Linked DNA regions of Homo sapiens: region 1 is linked to region 2. Evidence: fine-mapped expression QTL. A gene starts in region 2. The other region holds a variant in brackets. All regions are shown on one strand. Distances are from middle to middle.

Region 1 (5,374 bases), 300 kb before region 2:
AGAACTTCCTCCTCTGCCCTTCTAATGTTGTAAGTGTCTTGGGTGATCAGCATGAGAGGTACGAAACCTAGTGTTATTCTAGCTGTCTTCAGTCACCAGTAATCCCATGTTCCTGGACTATGAAGCAAGTTAGAGGTCTTGTCAGAGGACTGTGCGTGTGTGTGTGTGTATCAGCAAAAATGAAAAGTAGAAAATATTAAAAAATACAAAAAAATTAACTTCAAAAATCTTAACTAAGTTGTTCTCAATGTGTGGTCCTCAAACAAACTGCATTTCTGACTTCTTAGACATGCACAATCTCAGGCCCTCCATAGACCTACTGAGTTGAAACCTGTGTTTTAGCAAACTCTCTGGGTAATTTTGATAAACATTACAATTTGAGAACCACGGCTTGAGAAGAAGCCCTCCAAAAACTTCAAAGTAGTATGCAAACTAATTGCGTACAAGTACATTTCGAACAAGGTTGAGGCTAGCCAGGGTGCTTTTTGGAGATGACTATTCTTATGGCTCGATGTCTAGCTTATTTTTCTCTTTTACCTCCTAAGTGTTAACATCTCTGCTTCCAGTCCTCTTGTGAATCTGTTTTGCCCTTTTCTTCTCTTCTAAAGGAAGCCTTTTATGGTTAGATTCAGTTGGCCGTGATGTTGGGATATGCCAAAGCAACAGAAATCCACACATTTCCTTTTCCAGATGACGAGCTTAGGATGGTCTTGTGGACTCTGTTCTACTCTTTTCTACACTTTTTATTTCGAAAACAATTCAGCCTGTTATAAGCCAGACTTATGTGTTTCCTTGAGCAACATCTATAGCAGGTGTGTGGCTTCCACATGTACTCATACAAATAAAAAATAATACATGAAAACTTTCATCTCCACTCCCACAATTCAGATTCACAAAAGTATTCCCCAGGTAGATTGTAAATTTCCATATAGATTTACTAGCTGGCAGTTTGCAGCTGTATCAAGTGTTGTTTGATCAGCATCTGGGAATGTCCAGAGAAAGAACCTATAATTGTTATTCTGGATCTGTAAAACAGCATGCCTTCCAGCCACTCCATGTTTTCATTTCCATATTTATGCCCCAGAATTTATTATCTATTTTCCAAATTCTAAACTTACTCAAATACTTTCATGCCTGGGCATTATTCCCAGTGAATTATTTATCATATAGTGAATTATTTCCTCATATAGTTTTTGTAGAATATTTTCTTATCTTTACACCATTTGTCTTATTCTGGCAGCCAAAATGGTTCTACCAGTAGATAAAGAAGGTAATATGATTCAGAGAATGGTAAATGGCTTCCTTGCAAAATGTCTCCCTTACTAGCATGATATAAGGCCTGTGTTTTAATTGATTAGTCAAATTTCCTAGCTCTGATCCCTCTCCCCCAGCTCTGATCCACGTTTTCAACTCCTTGCTTGGTGTCATTCAACCTTCTGAAACATGTTTTTACTCTGGAGCAATGATTCTTAAACTATTCTCTCCATCACTGTCACTTGCTGAACCTAAAACACAGATTTCTGGGCCCACCCTCAAACATTCTGATTCAGTGGGTCCTTAGTAGGGCCAGAGGATTAACATTTCTCACACCCTCACAGGTAATGTTGATGCTGCAAGCTGACATGACACTTTGAGTATCATTCATTTGCTTGACTGTTTTTGTGGTTTACCTTTAATTTTTACATGTGAAGCAGACACCACTGATGTCTCAGCCATCCAAAAGCCATTTCCCCTTTCTCCTTAATAATAAATCCTAATTTTCTATAGGGAGTCACCAAGGCCTTTTGCTTCAAGAAAGCCTGCCTTAAATTTCAGTTCCAGGATGAGAGTTGTAATAACTCTAAGATAATTGAGTTAATAAATTGAAAATAATAGGCATTTCATTCCCCTGTGAATTGCCTAGCATGAAACATGAATAAGATTGTCTGAGGAGCTTCTGAGACAGGATTCTTCTCTCTCAAGAATACACCTGGAAGAGCTAAACCCTTTTCAGAACCCTGGATTGATGGGATGTGATTGCAAGACAACTGCAACCAGCTTGTGACCATCAAGATTTATATGAAAACATTACATTGTACCCCACAAACATACATGCAATTTAAAAAAGGAGAGAGATTGCCATATGCTGAGGATAGTCAGGTAGAAATAAAGAAAATAATTAGGTTCTTAAAATGATGATGAGCCAACAAATTCACTAACCTGGAGCTGCTTTGCCTCAAGACTTATTATGTGGGATTTCTGTTTCCTGCAGCTAAAAGCGTACTAATTTATATTATCTATCTTTCTATCCATCCATCCATCTATTTATCTACTTATCTATATTTCACCTGTCTATATATCTATGTATTCATCCATCTATCTTTAACTTATCTCTACAATTAGATTTTATTTTCTTAGTAAATATTAATGAAGAGAAAAGATAGTTATAATACTATTAGAATATAGCTATGTTAGTTGGGGAGGCTAGCTTACCACCTATCAACATCAAATCAAGAAATAATCACATTTTATCTTATGCAGAGTTTTAGAAAGAATAGAATATAAGAACATTAAGTGTGGTGGGATATGCATAAAAGGACAAAAAGTCAGGATCTATTCAAGTGCACCAAAATGGTGGCCCTGGATTCCTGTTACACGGCAGGAAGGAACTGGGTAGACTCCATTTTTAAAATGTACTTTTGGGTGTCCTTTTATGCACTCTCACGCTTCAGTAATTCATTTTCCACCCTGCATTCAGTGTAATTATAAAAAAGATCTGATCAAGCCATTCTCATTAGAACTCTGTAAAGTCTCTCATTCTTCCTATAATAACCATTTGGAGCCCTTCACTTGGCATACAAGGCCCCAAGTGAGCTGGTTCCCAGTGGTCCCTCAGCACCATGTAGTACCACACTCACTGCCCCTAGCCCCGAAGTCCTGCTTTC[A/C]ATTCTAGGTTCCTGCCACATGCAATTGCCTCACAAACCTTTACGTATAACACTTCCTCTTTTTAAAAAGGCATCTCCCACATCTTTGCCACTTCCCAATTTACCCTTCCTCTCTCACAATTCAACTTAAATGTCATCCCCATACTGAACCTTTTCTTGAGACTAGACTGTCTTCTTCTGTTCTTATACTCTTATACATAATTCTCTTCTGTGATACTTATCACATTTAATTGTATAATTAAATGTGCAATTAATTATTTAGTCTCTGTTTCCTAAATTACCACATGAGCCCTTAAGGGCAAGAACACATCTGTTTACTACCATATCCCTGGCACCAGACACTAAACATTGGTTGAAACAATCTCTTTTTTCTTCAGGCATATTCTCTGATGACATGTATGCTTCTTTTGTGAAACATTCAATAAATAAGAGTCAACTTGACTTTACACATGACCTTTCCTGCCACTATAGTCAAATGGGCAAAAATAGGCATTAATTTTCTTGCTTCACAAATGAGAAACTGAGGCCCAAAGAGTTTAACTAACCTGCTCATTTTTGTTCCATCTATGTTGACATTTGAAGTCAGAGAGCCTGACTCCTACTCACTGGCTTTTCCTTAGACTAGTCACTCACAGAACATCATTACTCAGCCTGCTCACAACACAACACTCATGCTTAAACAGAGTGCAGCTTTCTTCCGGCCGCTGCACCAGAATTTTATGCAGCTTACCCTGCCCTGAGTCATTCATGGAAAGCATCTGGGAACACATTATGTAAAATACACCATCTCACCTAAAAATGTTCTTCCATCACTAGGGCACAAAGGGTCAGTGGGGTGTTCTGGGAGAGTTATCTGAAAGGAAAGCATACATTTGGGGAGAACATTGCTCCCCGATTATGACCCCATGACTTGCCTGTAGAAAAGCTGGCGGGTGCTCAAGTGTAAAGACCTGGGAAAGCTTGACACTGAGTAAAAGACTTTCCGTTCCTTCTGTAAGGAGATACATTAATGCAGTCGTGGAAATGAATATCCATTCTGTGGTTTTGAACCTCTGAAAGTAGCACTTGGGCAACTAAAAAGTGTCACACCATGCCCTAGAGCTATAGAGAAAACTTGCAGAGTAATTGGTATTATTTGCCCAAGAGATAAGTGGCTTCTGAGAAGTTCCTATATGGTTGTGGACATGCCTCCGCCTCTTGTTTTTCCTTCTAACACTATTCTGACTATAGCTTAGGAGTGAGATTCTTCAACACGGTCACTATTGATGGCCTATAGTCTGCATGCTTTTGTTTTCAAATAAGCAAGCAGTTTATCCCTGCCTCAGGAAGTATAAAGACTGAGAAATGTCAACGGGCCAAGTTAAAGAAATATAAAGTCCAGTTTAGGGGCTATTAAAGGGCTTGGAAAATCTGTATTAAAATTTTGACATCAAAGTTATATGCTTCTCTCAATCAATAAACAATTGTTGAGTATCTGCTCTGTGTTTATTTGTGATGGGAGCAGTCAGGAAATTCAAAAGAGCACTCAGGGAGGTAGAAAGGCAGAGTAGATAGAACAAAGGCCTTAGAGTCAGAAGAATGGATGTGGTTTCAGATTTTCCACTTATTGGGTCAACTTCCTTTGGGCCTGTATCTTATTTGTATAGCTCTAATAGCCTTACCAACTTCACAAGGCTGTTGTCAGAACTGGGGAAGAAAAGTATATCAAAACAAACCCCCCACCACCAAAACTCATTTAGCATTTTGCTAGCTCTTTCAACAAATATTTTTGAAGGCCTATACTAGACTTAAAAAAACTTACCAGACAAAATCCAAATGCTCATGATAGACTCCTGTTTATTCTTCAAGGTTCAAATCAACTACAGCCTCTTCTGTTATGTCATTCCCTAAAATAAATCCCTTCCTTAATTAATCTTGAATGTCCTTACTTCATTGTGTTACTTTATATATTTGGTTAAATGTCCACGTTCAACCCTAAACTATGAGTTCCTCAAAGACAGAGACTGTGCCTTATTCACCTTTGTGCTGACATGATGCCCAGAGTAGCACCTGGTCCAGAAAGTATGCTTTCTTTGGAATCTTAGACTGGATGTATGAAAAGATGAATGGGTATGGGACAGCCTGGGCTCTGAGAGGGAAATCAGCATGAATGCAGGAAGAAGACCTTGACTGAAACAGAGGGTGGGTTTTGATTTGCAAGAGGAAGTGAAAGGAAGACAGTAAGTCCCATGACGAGAACCTGGTGAACTATGTTGAGGAATTTGGACTTAAATTTATAAGGTGTCAGAGTCTGTTAGGAATCCTTTAGCAAAAATATGATATGATCAAACTACTATCCAGACAAAAAAGAAAAGCTCTTATAATTGGAGAATTCTGCCCATAATCAATGTCTTGCTACACACTGAATAGAAAAATTTCCTGGAGCCAAAGATGGTCTTGCAATCCCGGGA
Region 2 (5,374 bases):
CAATACAAAACTGATCTTTGAGTCACTTAAGTAAGAATTCCTTATTCAAAGAAACATACAATTTGTAAGGTTCAGGTTCAACGTAAAAATCGCAAGGAAGTATTGCTGGAATATAACACTGCTACCAATGTTTTCAAAAGTTGAAAATCCTTTCAAAATTTGAAATAGGTTTCCATTTGTCATAGTCATTTTTGCCTTAAGCGTTAATAATGCAACCTAGAAGATTCTTTCTTGGTTCTTAATTTTTACTTTTACATCAAACACTTTAACTGTGACGTATACGGCATTCTGTAACTTTTTCAAACCAGGTAGAATGAATATGGCATGCAAAAAAGTAAATACCCAAATTCTACAACAATCATGCCATTTTTTATTAATTGTATAGTAGCACAAAGTTATAGAACTAAAAGCAAATCAAATCCTATTAGGTGCCAGAAACACATTAAAGCAAACTTAACAAGAAGAAGACATGAATTTATTTTCAACTTCTCAACAACTTAAGAATTAACTATTTTACAGTCTGATAGCCTAGAACACCACCTTAGATTCTGCAGCTAAAAGGTTGTTCTCCCTGCTAATTGAGAACACAAACGAAGTGATAATAACCAGAAAAGCGTTTTAAAAATTCAAATGTCACATTTCGTATCTAGCATTCTGTCAAGGAATTCCTTAAACTGCAGTCCTTCTTCAATTTCAAAACGATCACCCCCTTTCCCAAGCCTATATGACAATAAAAAGTATAAAACAGGCAAAAGTGGACCTTTATCCGATCTCCGCTCTTTAGAATAGAGGCCACAGCGAACAAGGCAGGTGACAAACGTCTCCCAATTCGGAGCAAGGCAGTGCTGGAAACCGGATCTCCTCACCTCCAAAAGAATGGCAGAAGACAACGCTGCTCTTTGCTTTCACTTAGTTTATCGCCTCTCTGTGCCCCAACACCGTCCCCAGCAGGTGGGACACAGCCGATCCCCAGGGGAGTTTCTCCAGGCGGACTGACGCTGTCCATGGGCCAGGCTGCCCCCCTGCTTACGATCCCCAGACTCAGACAGGCGGGGGCCGCGGGCGCCTCCGAAGGGTACGTGTCACGAAATGCAGGAGCACACTTCCCCCGCCTCCCTCTCCCCAGCTAAGATCTCCCCCAACTCAAGAGAACTGCCTTCCAGCCCCAAGGAGCCACTCCGCCCCCAGGCAGAGGTCACGCCGCCCACTGCCAGGCTTTCTGCAAAGCCCCTCGGACATCCGGCACAGGTTTCCCACCCCGACACTGCGAGCACGAAAGCCCTGCCTGAGACACGCAGCCAGGACGCACAAGTCCAACCCACGCACACACGGCGACTCCACGCTGCACTGACCGAAGGGGGCATTGCCTGTAATCTGCACACGCCTATCTCCTTTTGGGTCGAGAGAAAAAAAAAAGATATCATATTTCTTAAAGTGAAAGAAAAATGGCTTTTTAAAAAAAGGGCATTTTCCAGGGTCCCACTGCTCACTCCGGGCGCGCAGGACCCAGCTCCCGGAGCTGTAAACTTTCGGTGCAGATTTGCTTGCAGTCAAAGTAGCATCTTTGAAATAAAAGGGGGCTTTTTTGTTTTTATTTTTTAAGTGATTTCTGCCGATCCGATCCCTGGCCTCCTTCTTCAAAGCTGGACTCCCTACCTCCGCCCCTCTTCTCTTTCCCAGTCCCCCCTCCCCTTTGAAAGTGCTTTGAAACCCCCATTAAGAACAGTGTGTGATCAGACTGAGGATTAGGGGAAAAGAACTTCAGCTCTAGGGTGGGGCAAACGGACACAGAAACTGCTTTGTAAAAAACACACAAGAATCCAAATTAAAACACAGCAACAACAACAACAAAAGGAAATAAAAAATTGCCTATTTTGCCACCTACTTTCAGGTAATGGAAAATGATCGCGACCGCTTGATGACTTTCTTCCTGCGCTGGGTCAGCCCGAGCTTCCAAAAATAAAATAAGTGTGACCCAGGCTGACCACGAAGAACGGAAGAGAGAGAGCTGCACTTCCGAACCGCAGAGACCCGGCGCCAGGCAGGGCGACGCTCCCACCCGCTCCGGGCTAGACTGTCCACACGGAGCAGAGGCGGGCACTCCCTCCACCCGGCACCCTGCCTTTTTCTCACCCTGGAAGTCTCCTGCCCCCGAGGCGGGCAACCTGTGTCCCCCAGCCCCACCAGCGCCCCGCCTAGGGACAGCCTCTCCCTGGACTTTGCCTTCCACCAAGAGGAAGAACAGGTTAGAAATGCGGGCGCCTGCAAAGGCAACCTGGAAAATACAAAGTGTTTTTCTCTCCCTCTCCCGCTCTCAGCGCCGAATTCGCGGCCAGTGCACGGCTGGGAGCAGACTTCAGGCTAGCTGTCCTCCGTCCCAACCCCCTAGAGCGCGGGCGCGCGGGGTCGCCTGTCGGGGACACTGCACGGGGTGCATACAGAAGTCCCCGCAGAGGCAGGCCGAGCCCAAGCCCCGGGCGAGGCAGGTCCGCGGGGAGCGCCCCGGATCCTCGCGAAGACCCTGCGGGATTTGAGAAAGGGAGGCTCGGGGAGAGACGGACCCAACTCCTGGTCCGGCTGCACCTACTCCATGTTGCCCACAACGCGCCGGCCGCGGCGCCAGGAGGGGAAGAGCCAAACGTGCCTCACCGTGATCGCGGCTTTGCACCAACCCCTCTCCCTTGGATTCTCTTCTTTCTGCGATGTGCAAATAAATCCAGTCTCGATGCAAACTTTTTTCCTTTCTTTCCAACCTCTGCTTTAGACCAACTTCCGAGCAATCGGCGGGAGAAAAAAAGAGAATTCGGAGCCAGATTCCCCGCTGATGAACACTCCGGGGTTCGGAGCTGGAGACGACTCCCCTTCTACAAGCGCACGCGGAGTATTTCCTCTTTTTTCTCAATGAACAAGAGGCCGAAGCGCCAACGGCAAGTCCCTTTTCCTGGCAGATGAGCGAATGGGAAAAGAAAACGGCCTTACGGAGAACCTAAAGCCAGATCGCCAAGTGGTGCGGCCGGGGCCGCGTCGTAGCGGAGGCGGCGCGGGGGCGCGGGCCGGGCCGGGCCGGGCGGGCGCGGGGGCCTGGGCGCTGCGCGCTCCGCCGGCCCCTCTCCTCCGCTAGCGCTGCGGCGCGCAGCTCTCGGCGGTGCAGACTGGGCGTTGTGGAGGCGAGGCAGCGAGGCCGAGGCGGGGGCGGTGGGTGCGGAGGAGGAGGAAGAGGAGGAGGAGGAGGAGGAGGAGGGTCTGGGGCCCGCCCGGGGGGGGCTCGCCGTTGGCCTGCGCCCTCGCCTTTCCGGAGGAGGCAGGGAGCTCTGCGGCGGCCGCGGCAGCAGTAAATGGCGTCATGTGGATCCGAGGCGGAACAGAGCAGTTGTTGTCCCAGAGGATATATCGCATCCGGTCCCAGCTCATTGGCTCCGCGGGGCTACATTCACTCACACTCCAGCGCCCGCCAGCGCTCCGAGCCGCAGGAGGCATTCAAAAGGGCAACCGCGCCGCCCCGCGCGTCCCCAGGCCGGTCCTGCCGCCCGAGCGCCGTCACGCGGGGCGCCCGCGGGGCCGGGCTGGGCACTGCAGGGTCAGTTTATCTAGTTTCAAGGAAACACTGACCTTAAGGTTTGCCCAGAGGCAATGAGGACGAGCCAGAGGCTCGAGCTGACTTAGGGAACTTTCTCCTTGCCACCAGGAAAGGGGAATGAACATTTAAGACTAATCTGGGCCACGCAGTGTTAGCATGAAAAACAAGTTGCAGGTTTTAAGACTTTATCCAGAATCCATTTCAAGTCTACCTCTCCCCTTTTCTGTTCCCCTTTGCGGAGCGGGTGACGGGGGCTGGGGCGGGGGGAGAAGAAGGGGGAGGGGAAGGGGAGCGGGAAGTGAGGTGGGAGGGCTATTGGTTTATTCTTTGTCTACTGGATTAACCCGATTATACACCAGGCACCAGCACAAACCGCCTCCCCCACCTCCGAGCCTTGTACGGGAGGAACGGAATGCAGATTCGAGTTTCAAGTACCTTCTGCTCTTGCTGGGATTTGCTTTTGATTGTGTCGACTTGTAGTTTTTCCGTTTATTAGAATTTCATTTTTAAGGGGGGTTATCTATGAATGGAGGCTTTTTGAAGAGCTTCCTTACTATTTTGCTTCATGCAGTAGCTAAAGTCTACAGTCTAAGCCTTTTAACTTAATTCATTAATAGACAGGAACAAGATTACTCAGGGCGACAGCATGGGCTTCCGAAATGGGGGGGCGGGGGGGAGGGAAGGGTTGGCTCACTGCAGATTTCCTTCTTCCCTTAACTAAAAGTCATCCTTCATTTCCCACTTTTCTTGCCACCTAGAACATTTCTCAAGATTCTGTTGTCCATGTTGAAGGTGCACTATTCTTTCCCATTTACAAAAAAAAAATAAAGATAGAAAATGCATACATATGCACTGTCCTAGCTGCCGTTCATTTACTAAGAAATGTGCCTTCACGTGGGAGCACCAGTGGAAAATTAAAACTTGCGCATACACACGCCTAATATTGCATTCTGTCGAGCGACTTACAGAATGCTTTTACTTTACAGGGAAGTACCTGCTTGTACGGTCAAAATTCCCGAATAGCACCTGCGATCTTGCCCCATGCGGGGTGTTCTTGAAAGCAGTGTTAGGAAAACATGGTGCTTCACTCGTCCAGCTTTAACCCAATCCATTTGCAGCTACCCTGGAACTAGCTGCCTTCTTCTGAGCTCCTGCTCTAGAATGTCCCCAGCGCGCTCTCTGCCTCGCTGCGGTCTCACCCTGACTTCTCCATGTTTCTCTAGGGCTCTCCTCTTTCTCTAGGGATTTGGAACCAGAGATGGCAAGGGAAGTGGCATGCGTTATTTCCGGGCGCTGGCCTACGTCCCCCGACCCCTAAGGTGAGGGTGGACGAGGCTACAACGGCCTGCTCCCGAGCGTCCCGGGACTGCGGGCGCAAAACAGCTGGGCCTCTCTGGCCACAGCCGCTCGCCGGACGCCCGAATCCATTGAGCCGACGGTGAACGCAGGCGCCGCTGCGCTCGCGGCCCCTCTGGCCACCAGGGGGCGCCCGCCCGGCGCGGGGCTAAGGCTGCTTTCTTCTCCGGGACACGACGCGGACAGGCTGGGTTACCTTCCAAAACGTGTGTGCATTAGGCCGGCTGGTTTAAAATGAATACAAAGATATTAATATAAACGACACAGAAGATAGCTTGCCCTCCTGTCTGCTTGGGAGGGTCAAAGCCTGGGTGTGCAAGGCTAGGCAGGAACGTGCTGCCGGTGTGCGGCCAGCAAGTCTCTCGAGCAGAGCAGGTGAAAGCAACGCCGTCGCTTCGCCTCTTCAAACTCCTGCACTCGATGGCGGCTTTTTAGGAGACA

Evidence for each region. PIP is the estimated chance that this variant, and not a neighbour inherited with it, causes the effect.
Region 1: its variant is fine-mapped to the expression of SPRY2 in whole blood (TOPMed, PIP above 0.99).

What each region holds. Positions count from the first base shown.
Region 1 is chr13:80,034,081-80,039,454 of GRCh38, forward strand. No RefSeq gene overlaps it. Among named protein-coding and RNA genes, the nearest start is that of LINC01080, 26 kb to the left of the region's middle. The variant A/C (reference allele first, on the strand shown) is at 2,925.
Region 2 is chr13:80,337,973-80,343,346 of GRCh38, forward strand. It overlaps SPRY2 (sprouty RTK signaling antagonist 2), which reads right to left and starts at 3,154. Exons shown (of 2, transcript NM_005842.4): 1 at 2,650-3,154. RefSeq lists enhancers at 958-1,007, 4,978-5,374 and silencers at 3,102-3,291, 3,522-3,571, 4,971-5,160.